3 separate regions of the Homo sapiens genome follow, and all the other regions are linked to region 1. Evidence: fine-mapped expression QTL. A gene starts in region 1. Each other region holds a variant in brackets. All regions are shown on one strand. Distances are between the middles of the regions. Region 1 holds the start of RNF175 (ring finger protein 175). Region 2 has its middle 20 kb from the start of SFRP2. Region 3 overlaps DCHS2 (dachsous cadherin-related 2).

What was found. PIP is the estimated chance that this variant, and not a neighbour inherited with it, causes the effect. A credible set is the group of variants that fine-mapping cannot tell apart.
Region 2: its variant is the best candidate, but not a certain one, in a credible set for the expression of RNF175 in CD4 T cells (CEDAR, PIP 0.81).
Region 3: its variant is the best candidate, but not a certain one, in a credible set for the expression of RNF175 in rectum (CEDAR, PIP 0.62).

The regions. Positions count from the first base shown.
Region 1 is chr4:153,758,035-153,762,388 of GRCh38, reverse strand. RNF175 (ring finger protein 175) reads left to right here and starts at 2,365. Exons shown (of 9, transcript NM_173662.4): 1 at 2,365-2,592. The coding sequence starts at 2,527.
Region 2 is chr4:153,806,989-153,811,342 of GRCh38, reverse strand. No RefSeq gene overlaps it. Among named protein-coding and RNA genes, the nearest start is that of SFRP2, 20 kb to the right of the region's middle. The variant AGGAGGGAAGGAGGGAG/G (reference allele first, on the strand shown) is at 2,415.
Region 3 is chr4:154,336,145-154,340,144 of GRCh38, reverse strand. All of the region lies in intron 3 of DCHS2 (dachsous cadherin-related 2), which reads left to right. Among named protein-coding and RNA genes, the nearest start is that of DCHS2, 150 kb to the left of the region's middle. The variant C/T (reference allele first, on the strand shown) is at 2,318.

The sequences.
Region 1 (4,354 bases):
TTCAAATCTGGGACCTGAGACTTATATAACAATAACAGGTCAGAATTTTATAGAAAGGGAACATCTATCTCCATATGGACTATTTTCATTTTATTATTTTGCTGCCTTGGGAGAATCTAGATGAATGTGAGGATATCCTGGGCTGGAGAGAAAAAATGGCTCTTGCCACATGAAGGCAGGCCACAAGATAGGTAGAGAAGTAACATGTCCAAATGAACCCACTATTTTTGTGTCCCCAAATCTGCTGCTCTTTCAATGTTCCCATTCTCAGCAATGGCAGCACTGTCTGCCCAAATGCTAGACTGCCCAAGCCACATGCCTGGGCACCATCCTTGGAGATGAGTCAAGTACAGTAGATTCTATTACCTAGATCTCCCATCCCCAAACACATCTCTCCATCTCCCCTCCACTCTGTCCCCGCACACACTCTCACCACCAAGGCCACTGTCATCCTTAGAGCTGAAACTACAGCAATAGCTTTCTGGCTGGTCTCTCTGTCTTGAGTCATAGTCATAGCCCTCTTCCCCACTCTTGAAGCCAAAAGGCAAGTCTGGTAATGTCATTTTCTTGCTTAAAACTCGGTAATGGCTTCTCATTCTCCTGAGGCTACAGTCCAAACTGTTTAATATGATTTATGTGGATCTGGCCCTTGCTGACCTTCGCAGCTACTTCCTTGAGAGATTAAGAACCCAGACCATGAAGTCAGTTTTGTCTGGGTTCAAATTCCCACTGCCCCACCTATTAGCTTCAAAACTTGAACAAACTTCTGGACCTCTCTGTGCTTCAGTGTTCTCCCGTGTAAAACACGGACGGTCACAATGCCCACCTCACAGGATTGTCAGGAAGACTGAATGAGCTAACACAGGTAGAGTGCTCAGGACGGCACCTGGCACACGGTAAGCATTCTATCAATGTTAACCATGATTTTTATTTCTCCAATTCATTATGCCTTCTCCAGCATTCCGGCCCTTGCATCCACTGTTCTCTCCATCTCAGACACTCTTTCCAACACACTCTGATCATGCTACAAGGTAGTCTTCAGATGTAGGTAACAGCCCCAGCGGCACCTGAAAACTTGTTCAAAAGACAAATGCTCAGGCTCCACCCTAGACCTACTATATTAAAAACTCTAGGGCTCAACTCCAGCAATCTGAAGATTTTTGTTTTGTTTTTTGATAGAGTCTCGCTCTGTTGTCCAGGCAGAAGTGCAGTGGTTCCATCACGGCTTACTGCAGCCTGAACCTCCCGGGCTCCGGCGATCCTCCAGCCTCAACCTCCTGAGTAGCTGGGGCTACAGGTGTACCACGCCCAGCTCACTTTTGTATATTTTATAGAGATGGGGCTTCACCATGTTGCCTAGGCTGGTCTCAAACTCCTAGGTTCAAGCAATCCGCCCGCCCTGTCCTCCCAAAGTGCTGGGATTAAAGGCATCAGCCACTGTGCTTGGCCAGCACTCTGAGTTTTAACAAACTCAGCATTCCTCCATAGGATTCTGATGCCCAGTTAAGGCTGGAAAACCAAGGCACCATCCGTGATAAATTGTACTTAGATGCTTATTTTTCTCTATCCCCTGTTAGGCTCTACGTTCCACAATGGCAGAGAAATGTCCATCTTGGTCTGTTCACCTCCTTTGTAGGTGTTGACAAATACGAGCCATCACAAACTGGAAAGGGGTAAGCTGTATTTCGTAGGACACATCATCTAATTCTGTGCTCCTCTTTTCTGTTTCCCCAAATCAACACCCAGGTATTTCTAAAGGCTTGCCTAAACGTTCCAGCTTGTTCTCAACCTTGAAGCCAGGCTTAGGCCTAAGTTGTAAAGGCGGGAGGGGAGACCCTGGAGGTAGAGGGGCAAAGGCAAGATGCTTGCGTCGCAGGGGCCCTGCATGGCCTGGAGCAGCATAGGGGCCAAGATGGTCTGCGCTCTCCCTAGATTGGAGTTTCTCTCCTTCATCATCTTTGGAGGAAGCACAGATAACTGAGGAAAGTCTGTATCTGCACAGCCACCCGAACTCCTGCCTCCTAATAAACACCTCTGAGGGAGAGGAAACTCTCTCTCTCTCTTCTCTTCCTCCCCAGCACCCCTCGCCCCCCCACCGCCATTTCTCACTCCTCTACTCCCCTCTCTCTCCCTACCCACCTCTGACCCCTCCTCCAGTCCTGCCGCCCGGTAACAAAACCGGGGTTCCCGCCACACGCACCCGGTAGGGCTCAAGACGCTTTATCGGCGACAATGGCTGGCTGAATGGGAGGCCTGAGGTTCTGAAGGAACCGGGGTGCTGGCGACCGGGACCTCGAGGCCGCTGCTGGGGAGGACGCTGGCCAGCGTGCAGGGGGCGGAGGCGGGGCGTGCCGGGAGGCTCCCATCTCCCGCCCCGCACAACCCGGGCAGGGCCGCCGCTCCGCCGCCGCCGCAGATCCGGCTCTCACCCTCGGCTCCCGAGGCCCCGCGGCGCCTCCTTCTGCGGACTCTGCGGGACCCTCCCCGGCAGGCGCTGTGCCCTGGAGAAGGCACAGTGGCTCAGGCATGGCCGCGGGGACGGCGGCGCGGAAGGCAGCGCCGGTGCTGGAGGCCCCCCCGCAGCAGGAGCAGGTACTGGCGCGGGGGCGCGGGCGTGGGGGACGCCAGGCCGGGGTCCCGGGGCTCACGCTGGTGCCGGGCAGGCTGCACAGACTGGTCTCCAAGACCCCGGGCCCCACCGGGGAGAACCGGCCCTGGAAAGACGTGGGGACGGACGCATGACCTTCTGGAAGATGCCACCGTGCGGGGTGCCAGTCCCTCCTCCACTCCCTCCCTCCCCACTTCTGTGCCCTCCCCGCTACCTTCCTTTCCTCCTTCTGATCCTCTTCCTTCGCTCCATCCCTCTTCTCGCATCCTCGCACTTTCTCTTCCAGGCTCACCCCTTCCACTCCCGCCCTCCTTTGTGACCGCCTGTGCCCTCCTCCCTCCTCGGCGGAAGCCCCCAGAGCCCAGGGTCAAGGTCGTAAGCTGCGAGAGAGGGGAAGGGGTGTACTGCAGGCTTTTGGCTAGACCGCCCTGGTTCTCAAACTCGAGTGTCATCAGAATCACTCGGAGGGCCTGTTACCACGCAGACTGCTGGTCTGTGCCCAGGGTTTCTGATTCAAGATGTGTACCCTGATCGTCAGCTTGTCTTGCCTGGTGCTCAACCTAGCCCATTTCTGCTTCTGCTGGCGTCAATTGCAAACCCAATCTTAATTTATTCTTCGTTCATAGGACAATTCTTCTTAGGCTACATCCAGGTACCAGGAGGATTTGGGGGTGGAGGAGGGTAGGTCTTACCTGGAGGAACCCAAATCCCATCCGTAAAACGAGGACAAAAATAACTCTTAAGGGCAAAGATAACTCTTAAACAACAACAAAAATCACTCACAGAGCGGGTAGGAAGAGATTAATGTCCCAAAATAGGTTCAGGCAAAGAACTGTAGGATTTCTGAGAAGGGCTTGCTCCTGACTAACCCCCTTCTCCTCCAACCCGTGAGGGCGTGGCATTCGAGCTGGGTGTTGGGGAATGGACAGGATCTGACCTCATGGGCCAGAGAATTCTAGATGGAGGGAACAACAGTACCAAATGGCTTGGAGATTTTTTTTTTTTTAATATTGGGATGGATGGCCATGGGACAAGGCAGAGAGAGGGGACTGTCCACTCTGACTGCCAGAAACCTAGGGGTCAGGAATGCTTATAGCAAAAAATAAGGGTGGGCTAGGCTGTGGAGGGGCTTGTGTACCACAAAATGGGGAAACTTAAAATGAAACTCCATGACTTTCTTGCTGGTTTCAAACCCAGATTATCGAAAGGGAGGTTCTGAATTGATGAATGCATGCCAGGAGTGTCAGAGGATCTAGTACTGGTGGATTTGCTGCTGATCTTTGCTCTTCCTTAAGGCTGGCATCACTGCCTAGTCTGCTGCCCTCAGGAGGTATGGCCTCTCTGTTGAGGCTGCCCTAGGAGGGACTCACAGCTTTTCCCTTAATCCCATATGGCAAGACAGTGTGGTCCAGGAACCAGCAGCCAAGGCATTACCTGGGAGCCTGTTAAAAATGCAGTCTCAGTTCCCACGCCAGACCCACTGAATTGAAATCCGCATTTTAACCAGATCCCAGGGTGATTCATTTGCACATCAAAGTTCAAGAAGTGCTGGTTTCTTGACTTTACTAGAGCTAGGGATAAGAAAGTGAAAACAGAGATAGTTACTGACCAGCCTATTATCTGATAGCTTCCCTTTGGTTTGAACCTCACCCTATTTTATTTTCCTTCATCACCCTTATCACTACCTGAAGTATGTCTATGTGTGTATTTGATTGTCTAAGAACCTCCTTCAGCATGAAAGCTCCA
Region 2 (4,354 bases), 49 kb before region 1:
ACACAGAGTCTCACTCTGTAGCCCAGGCTGGAGGGTAGTGGTGAGATCATAGCTCACTGTAACCTTGAACTCCTGGGCTCAAGCGATCCTCCTCCCTCAGCCTCCAGAGTAGCTGGGATAACAGGTGCATGCCACTATGTCTGACTAGTTTTTTTTTTTAGAGATGGAAGTCTTACTATGTTGCCCAGGCTAGTCTCAAACTCCTGGCCTCAAATGATCCTTCCACCTCAGTCTCTCAAAGTGCTAGGATTAGGCTAGGTGACTAGGAGCCACCACGCCTAGCCTAAATTATTATTTTAATCCTATTCAGTTCTGTTGAATAAAATGTTGATAACATTAATTCTTTATTCCCTAAAGAAATATTATTTACACGCTTTTCTAATATTTCTATTGAGTTTTTCCCATTCCTTTGACAAAAGGATTTCATTGTTGTGGATTTATCAGCATGTCACCATTTTAATTTTTCATAATTATGTTATTCTATTTTATCAAACTTAATGTGAGGTTTGTCTCACATTAAAATACACATGGTATTTTAAACTCATAAAGTGTTTATGAAAATTAATATCATTTTTTGATACCCCCCACCCCACATCAGGCTTTTTCTACTGTCCATTTTCTAGAAACAGTCTGTTTGCCTGTGGCCCTTACCTCAGGAACTGGCCAATGGATTTACAGATGTCCCTTGTGGTTCCCGGGATTAGGCAGTCTGATTCATGAACCACAAGCCACACAGGCTATGCTACTGAACCTGCACTATGCCTTTGCGTAAATAACAGGTGAAGTGTCCTGTGACTGCCAGCATTCTCTTGACTGTCAACATAATTTCCTATGGCTTTAGGCAACAGTGCAGCATGTGAACTTATTTATGCTTCATTCTCAGTTCTAGAACACTACTTCCCTATTCTTCGGTGCACGATATTCAAAGGTCAAGGAGAATAATCACCACTATACTCTGAGCAATATGAACAAATTTTATCCTCCATATTCGCTAACTAGGTCCAAATGAAAAAAAATGGATAGTGAAGGTGAAAATAATATGTTGGTTTTGAAATATTTATTTTATGGAATTAAAAGTATTTTTTAAGAATTGACTTTTCAAAATTCATAGTAACATGAAAAAAATAGGAAGGGACACCAGAACAGAAGCAGAAGCAAATAAAGAAAATGAAAGTGCGCATCACATAAGGGCATCTGTGACATTAGAAAGTAGTGTACATAACAAGAAACAGGGAAGTCGGGTGGATGCAGGCTCCACCAACTGAACAATCAATGATGGCTGAAACCGAGCAGTGCATCGTTAGGCAAAGCAGGATGATTCTTCTGCTGCTATAGAAGAACCTATTGCACTGAAGAGTTTGTAGAAGTCATTAAATGAGAAGGGCAAAGAAATAAGAATAATAAAAGAGTATGCCTCATTGAATATAAGTAATCTAGGATATAACAACCTGCTCACAGGTCATAAATAAACGATAACAACATTTGTCTACACAGAATGAAAAGAGCAGTTCACTGAACCATATAGAGCGAATCTGTATGGCTTTATCAATACCTGCAATTATCTCTCCCTAGCTGGTTGGAAATAAGAAATCATCACACTACAGCTGGCACCCGTTTCCAATATAAATGCCTTTCAGTTGCAATGGAAACTCACTGCATTACTGATTAAGTATGAAATCCCAGAAGACTTGCTTAAAACCTACCTGATGGTATCATGTGCTCAACCCATGGAAAATCAATGGCTCATCTCAATTTCAAGCTGCAAGAGTACTGATGTGCCCAGGCACCATCATGAGGTGGTTTTCTCACTTTCTTGCAACCTTTTTGACCACATCCTGCTTCTCATAGAACATCTAGTGAATAAAGACATGAATTTCAGATCATGTCACTTTGATGTATTTGAGTATAGAGTACTTACTCTGTGCTAAGCACTTTGCTGGACTCACAGCCTATGATAGAGAAGCAGGATATCTGTATTTCAGTCACAAATTTTAAAAGCTTTAAGTGATGCCATTTTTTATATACAAAAAATGTATTTTTAAAAACATCACAGATAGCCAGGTGCAGTGACTCATGCCTGTAATCCCAGCACTTTGGGAGGACAAGATGGGTGGATCACTTGAACCCAAGAATTCAAGACCAGCCTGGGCAGCATAGTGAAATCCTATCTCAAAAAAAAAAAAAAAAAAAAAAAAAAAACACCACACAAAAATTAGCACACGCCTGTAGTCCCAGATATGCAGGAGGTTGAGGTGGGAGGATTGCTTGAGCCCAGGAGATCAAGGCTGCCATGAACCATGATCGTGCCACTGCACCCCAGCCTGGGAAACAGAGTGAGACCCTGTCTCAAATAAACAAAGAAAAAAAAACAAATAGCACAGACAGAGGGAAGGAGGGAAGGAGGGAAGGAGGGA[AGGAGGGAAGGAGGGAG/G]GGAGGGAAGGAGGGAGGGAGAGAGGGAGGGAGGGAAGGAGGAAAGGAGGGAGGGAGGGAGGGAGGGAAGGAGGGAGGGAGGGAAGGAGGAAAGGAGGGAAGGAAGGAAGGAAGGAGGGAAGGAAATCCATTTTAAGTTAGATCCTCAGGGCCTTAACTCCAGGGCTTTTTAGAGAATGCATTTTTTAAAAACAGAAGAAGGGATAAACTGAAGTCCAAGAGAGGTGACCATGGTTCCTACTTGTCTTTTTTTTTTTTTTTCCTGAAGAAAATTATGTCCATTCTAAGGGGGACAGGAAGGTCAGAAACACGGAGATTTCTTGTTGTTGCAGTTTCAGTCTTCCATTATTTTCTTTTACTTTCTCCCCTGTTAAATTTGATTCTCTCTTTCTGACTGGCATGATGATGGCCAGAAAGGCTTTAACTCAACACTTTTGTGTACACAACTCAAGGTGAAGTGCAGCTTCAGTAACTATGCAGTCAGCCTGATTAACGCAGAAGATCAGAGTGGATTTTTGTTGTGCTATCTAACCCCAGACTACACCATAAAACATGACTCACCAAGGCTGTTGAGAATAGCCATGAACCAGGAGTTCTCTCACAAACTCTCTGCATGACTTTGGTCAAGTATTTCAACTTTTCTGAGCCTCAGCTTCCTTTACTGTAAAGAGAAGGGTTATTATAAACAATACCAAAAGCCTTTTCTAGCTTTAAAATTATGTGATTTTTTTTTTTTTTTTTTTTTTTTTTTGAGACAGAGTCTTGCTCTGTCTCCAGGCTGGAGTGCAGTAGCACAATCTAGGCTCACTACAACCTCCACCTCCCAGGTTCAAGCCATTCTCCTGCCCCAGCCTCCCGAGTAGCTGGGACTGTGGGCACCCGCCACCACGCCCAGATAATTTTTGTATTTTTGGTAGAGACGAGGTTTCACATTGTTGGTCAGAATGATCTCAATCTCCTGACCTCGTGATCCACCCACCTCAGCCCCCCAAAGTGCTGGGATTATAGGTTTGAGCCACCGTGCCCGGCCAATTTTTCTTTTTTAAATCTAAATTATATAGTTGTGTGTATCCCTAAGAAGTTTCACTCCTATTCTGGTTTCTATGTGTTAGAATTCAGATTTTCATAATCTGATATTTGGTTTTCTTGCATAATATGGACCAAGCCATGACCTAAAGAGTGTAATTTGTCTTGTGATCCCAAAATGTTAACTTTTTCCTAACTAAACCCTGCCTGGTTTAAGTAGGTAGTCTAAATGTCATTTATTCAATATTCATGAATGACTTCTATCCTAAGAAGAGTGGTTTCTGGCTCTGAAAGCCCCAGTGGGCTTTACTTTGTACACTGCATGTGAAAATCAAACCTGCCCCATGCTATAGACGTTCTAAGGCCACAGACTCCATAACTTGACAGCACCTGTTAGCTGTGTGACCCTAGGCAAGATCTTTAACATCTTCATGCCTTGCTTCTTCTTTCATAAAATGGAGACAATCATACCTACTCCATAGAATAGCATGAGCTGCATAAATAAATGCAAAGGACTTAAACAGGTCCTCGTAGTGTAAGCATTATACAAGGACTTGGTACTGTAAGTTATTTTTTATTTTAAATTAAAATCCTCTACAATGAAATTGTGTCCAGACTTTGCAGGTTCTTGGTCTCACTGATTTCAAGACTAAAGCTGTGGACCCTGACGGTGTGTGTTACAGTTCTTGAAGACGGTGTATCTGAAGTTTGTTCCTTCTGATGTTCGGACCCGTCCGGAGTTTCTTCCACCAGTAGAAGAAACTCCTAGTGGTGGGTTCGTGGACTCACTGACTTCAGGAGTGAAGTTGCAGACCCTCGCTGTGAGTGTTACAGCTCTTACAGGTGGTGCATCTGAAGTTGCTCGTTCCTTCCAGTGGGTTTATGGTCTCACCGGCTT
Region 3 (4,000 bases), 580 kb before region 1:
GTCCAATCTTAGTTTACACTATAGTTTACAAGTTTCCTTCATAGTCCTAAAAAAGTTAAATAATAACCAAACATATCTTCTTTTTCTGAATATCTTTAAAATATATTTTTTCATTTACAAAGTTAACATATAATTATTAAAAAATTTTTAAACTATAGGAATGTAAGAAGTAAAAAGTGAGCTTCCCATAATCTCAACACACAAAGATGACTTCCCTTAACAGTTCCTATCCTTTCATATTTTTCAGTATGCATAGTTCTGTGTGTATACACATCGTATATGTATTAGTGTTTGTATTCAAACTTTACATAGTGTTCTGTAATCAAATATTCTCAGCAGGTTTTCATGAATTTTTCTTTTACATTAAATAGAGATATACCATGATTTTAAAAATGTTTGGCTGGGCGCGGTCGCTCACACCTGTAATCCCAGCACTCTGGGAGGCCGAGATGGGCGGATCACAAGGTCAGGAGTTTGAGACCAGCCTGGCCAATATGGTGAAACCCCTCTCTACTAAAAATACAAAAATTAGCTAGGCGTGATGGTAGGCGCCTGTAGTCCTAGCTACTCAGGAGGCTGAGGCGGGAGAATCGCTTGAATCCAGGAGGCAGAGGTTGCAGTGAGCCGAGATCACGCCACTGCACTCCAGCCTGGGCAACAGAGTGAGACTCCATCTCAAAAAAAAAAAAAAAAGTTTGTTCATGTGATTATTACTTTTATGTGTTAACTTGAATAGTCCACAAGATGCCCAGATAGCTGATTAAACACTGTTTCTGGGTGTCTCTGTGGGTGGATTTTCATTTGAATTGGTGAACTGCGTAAAGCAGATGGCCAGCCCTAGAATGGGTGAGCATCATCTAATTCACTGAGGGCCTGAAAAAGAACAAAAAGGTGGAGGAAGGTTGAATTTGCTCTCTGCCTAACAGCTTGAGCTGAGACATCAGTCTCTTGCCCTCAGTGCTCCTGGCTCTCAGGCCATCAGACCCTGACTAGAATCTACACCACTGACTACCTGGCTCTCAGGCTTTCAAACTATACCATCAGCTTTTCTATGTCTCCAGCTTGCAGATGGGTGAACATGGGACTTCTCAGACTTCATAATCTCAGCCAATTCCTTAATGTAAATCTCACTTTATATCTATCTATTAATGTCTATCTATCTATCTCTATATGTAGATATGAGAGATATAAGATCTATAGATATCTATATCTACAGAGGAGAGATCCCATTGGTTTGCTTCTCTGGAGAATCCTGGCTAATACTTGTAGTATTGACATTATTTTTTCAAGCACAATGGATTGATAACATAGACTCACGTTTGCAACTTGTTTTTCACATAAAATGTAGTGTGTAAAGTCTTTCTAGATGAAAACATGTATATTTACTTCATTTTGATGCTACACAGTATTCTATTGTATTGATATACCACAATAGAGTGCACTGTCCATTCTTTTCCTGATGGATATTAAGGTCATTTTCAGTGTTCCAAATGACATCCTCTTGATTTATTTCTGTGTACTTACACAAATATAGAGTAGATTTCTGAGTTATTGAGTGTGAACAATTAAAATTTTGATAAGTATCACCAAAGTGCCTTTTGGAGAATGTACATAAATAACAACCTGCTATTAACTCTGGGTATTATCACTTAAATATTTTAGGAAAACAGAGAGGTAAAAATGAGGTAGTGGTTTTAATTTTGTATTTTCATTATTATTAGTGATTTTAGGTAGTATTATATTTATCAACATTTTATTGTTTCTTATCTAAACTACCTGTCCTTATCCACTGCTAATCTAACTTTCAGTTATTTTCCATTTTGTTTACAGATCTCTCTTCTCCTTATGTATAGTAAATTGTTGTTTGTATATTTTCAAAATTTCTTTTAATTTTATTTATAAATCATTCAGTAAACTAATGAGTAAATGAAGGACTGATATAAAATATTAAAAACCGGTAATTAAGTAAGGCATGTTAAGTTCATAATAGGCACATGTACCCAGGCTGCTGCGGGATCATAGAATAGTGGTAGCTAGAGCTAAGTGGAGAGAAAGAGAAGGCCAGCTGCACCAGATGAAACCTGAGCTGTGTTTTAAAATATGACTAGAGGCCAAGTGCAGTGGCTCACACCTATAATCCCAGTACTTTGGGAGGCCGAGGTAGGCAAATCACGTCAGGAGTTCGAGACCAGGCTGGCCAACATGGTGAAACCCTGGCTCTACTAAAGATACAAAAATTAGCCGGGCATGGTGATACGTGCCTGTAATCCCAGCTACTCGGGAGGCTGAGGCAGAAGAATCGCTTGAACCCAGGAGG[C/T]GGAGGTCACAGTGAGCTGAGATCATGCCACTGTACTCCAACCTGGGCAACAGAGTGAAACTTCATCTCAATAATAATAATAATAATAATAATAAAATATGGCTAGAAATTGTTACATCAAAGAAGATGAAGAAGTTGTTCTGGGAAGAGGACGCAGCAATCCAGATGGAAGACAGCAAGGTCTTTTCTGGAAATTACAAGCTGTTCACTTTGCCTAGAGCAAAAGGTACTGTACAGAGAGCTATGACACAGAGAGCTATGAGATGGGGTTACAGAGAGGGAGAGGGGCCATTTATGAATAGCTTGGTATGTTAAGATAATGCATTTAAGCTTTACCCTGAAAAGCTGGGGAGCCATCGATGTGTCTAGATTTGGATTTCAAGAAGACTGGTCTAACACAAATATAAAAATAGTTCAGAAGGAGTCAGTCGGGATGCAGGAAGACCAGGTTGTGTTGAGGCAGACATTAAGTTTTTCATTGTCATAATCATCAGGGCTCAACATAAAATCTTTTAAAATTTCTCTGTAATCGGAATTTAGTGGTAGCTCTGGAAGAATATATACCTGGTGAGTGGGGATGTTTGGGGTAGGGGGACTTTTTCTTCTCTTCTGTACACATTTGTGTATATTCAAGTTTTATTTTTCAATCAATCAGAGACTTTAATACTAAAGCAATATTTTTTAGAAACTGCACCAATAACAGATGAGAAAGATCTGACTTGGAAATTTTTTGTGATAAGTACTGAGTGCTTTGATGGACCATCAAATCAGTCTGAAACCAGATGTGAATATGGTTACTAAAAGCTGGTGTACTAATAGTTGGTTACATTAGTATTTTATGGTATTCTAATAAAGAGTGTTTATCCTCTGCTTTATAACAGTAAAATTGTATCTGGAAACAAAGTTTGTTCACTTTGGTTATCAAAATTGAGATGATCAACTTGGACCATGTTTAGGAGAAAGAACTGTGAGAGAAATGACTTAAAATCATATTAGATAAGGAATCATTAAAGAAAATGGTTATAATCACAAATTGTCAAATTGTACACCTTAAACATATGTAATTTTATTGGTCAACTATACCTTAATAAAGCTGGGGAAAAAAGGAAAATGAGTATGTGTTTAGAGCAGGCCAAGCAAGATATTTGATTTCAGTAAATAAGAATATTTTATTAAATTTCTAATAGAAATAGAAACAAGAAATCGAAGTTGCAAGAGGGCAGATTTTTATATAAAAAAGGAAGAAATCAAATGGATGTCACCTTTTAATGCCTAGAAACTGATATCCCTGATGTTTTTGCCAACTTCTCCTAAACTGGCAAAGACTGCAGTATTCATTCATTAACTAATTGTTATGGCCAGTTGTACATGATGAATTCCATAAAGGCCAGCCATACGTATTTGTTCGCAAATTCATTTAATAAGTTTGCATACATTTTTCTCATTAAACAAAACTAACAGGTTCATTTCTTAAGTTGATTGCATTAGATCCGTTTTCAGGTTTTTAAACTAGTACACTAAGTGGTAGTATTAATAATATTAAATAATTCATTTTTGTCAGTATTACCGAATCTCTTCCCAACTTAGCCATAAATAAGTTCTCCTCTCACATACTCTACATGCATAAGCCTAAGTCGTCACTCTTGTCCCCATTGTCTTTACATTTGCTGAAGTTTTATTGTA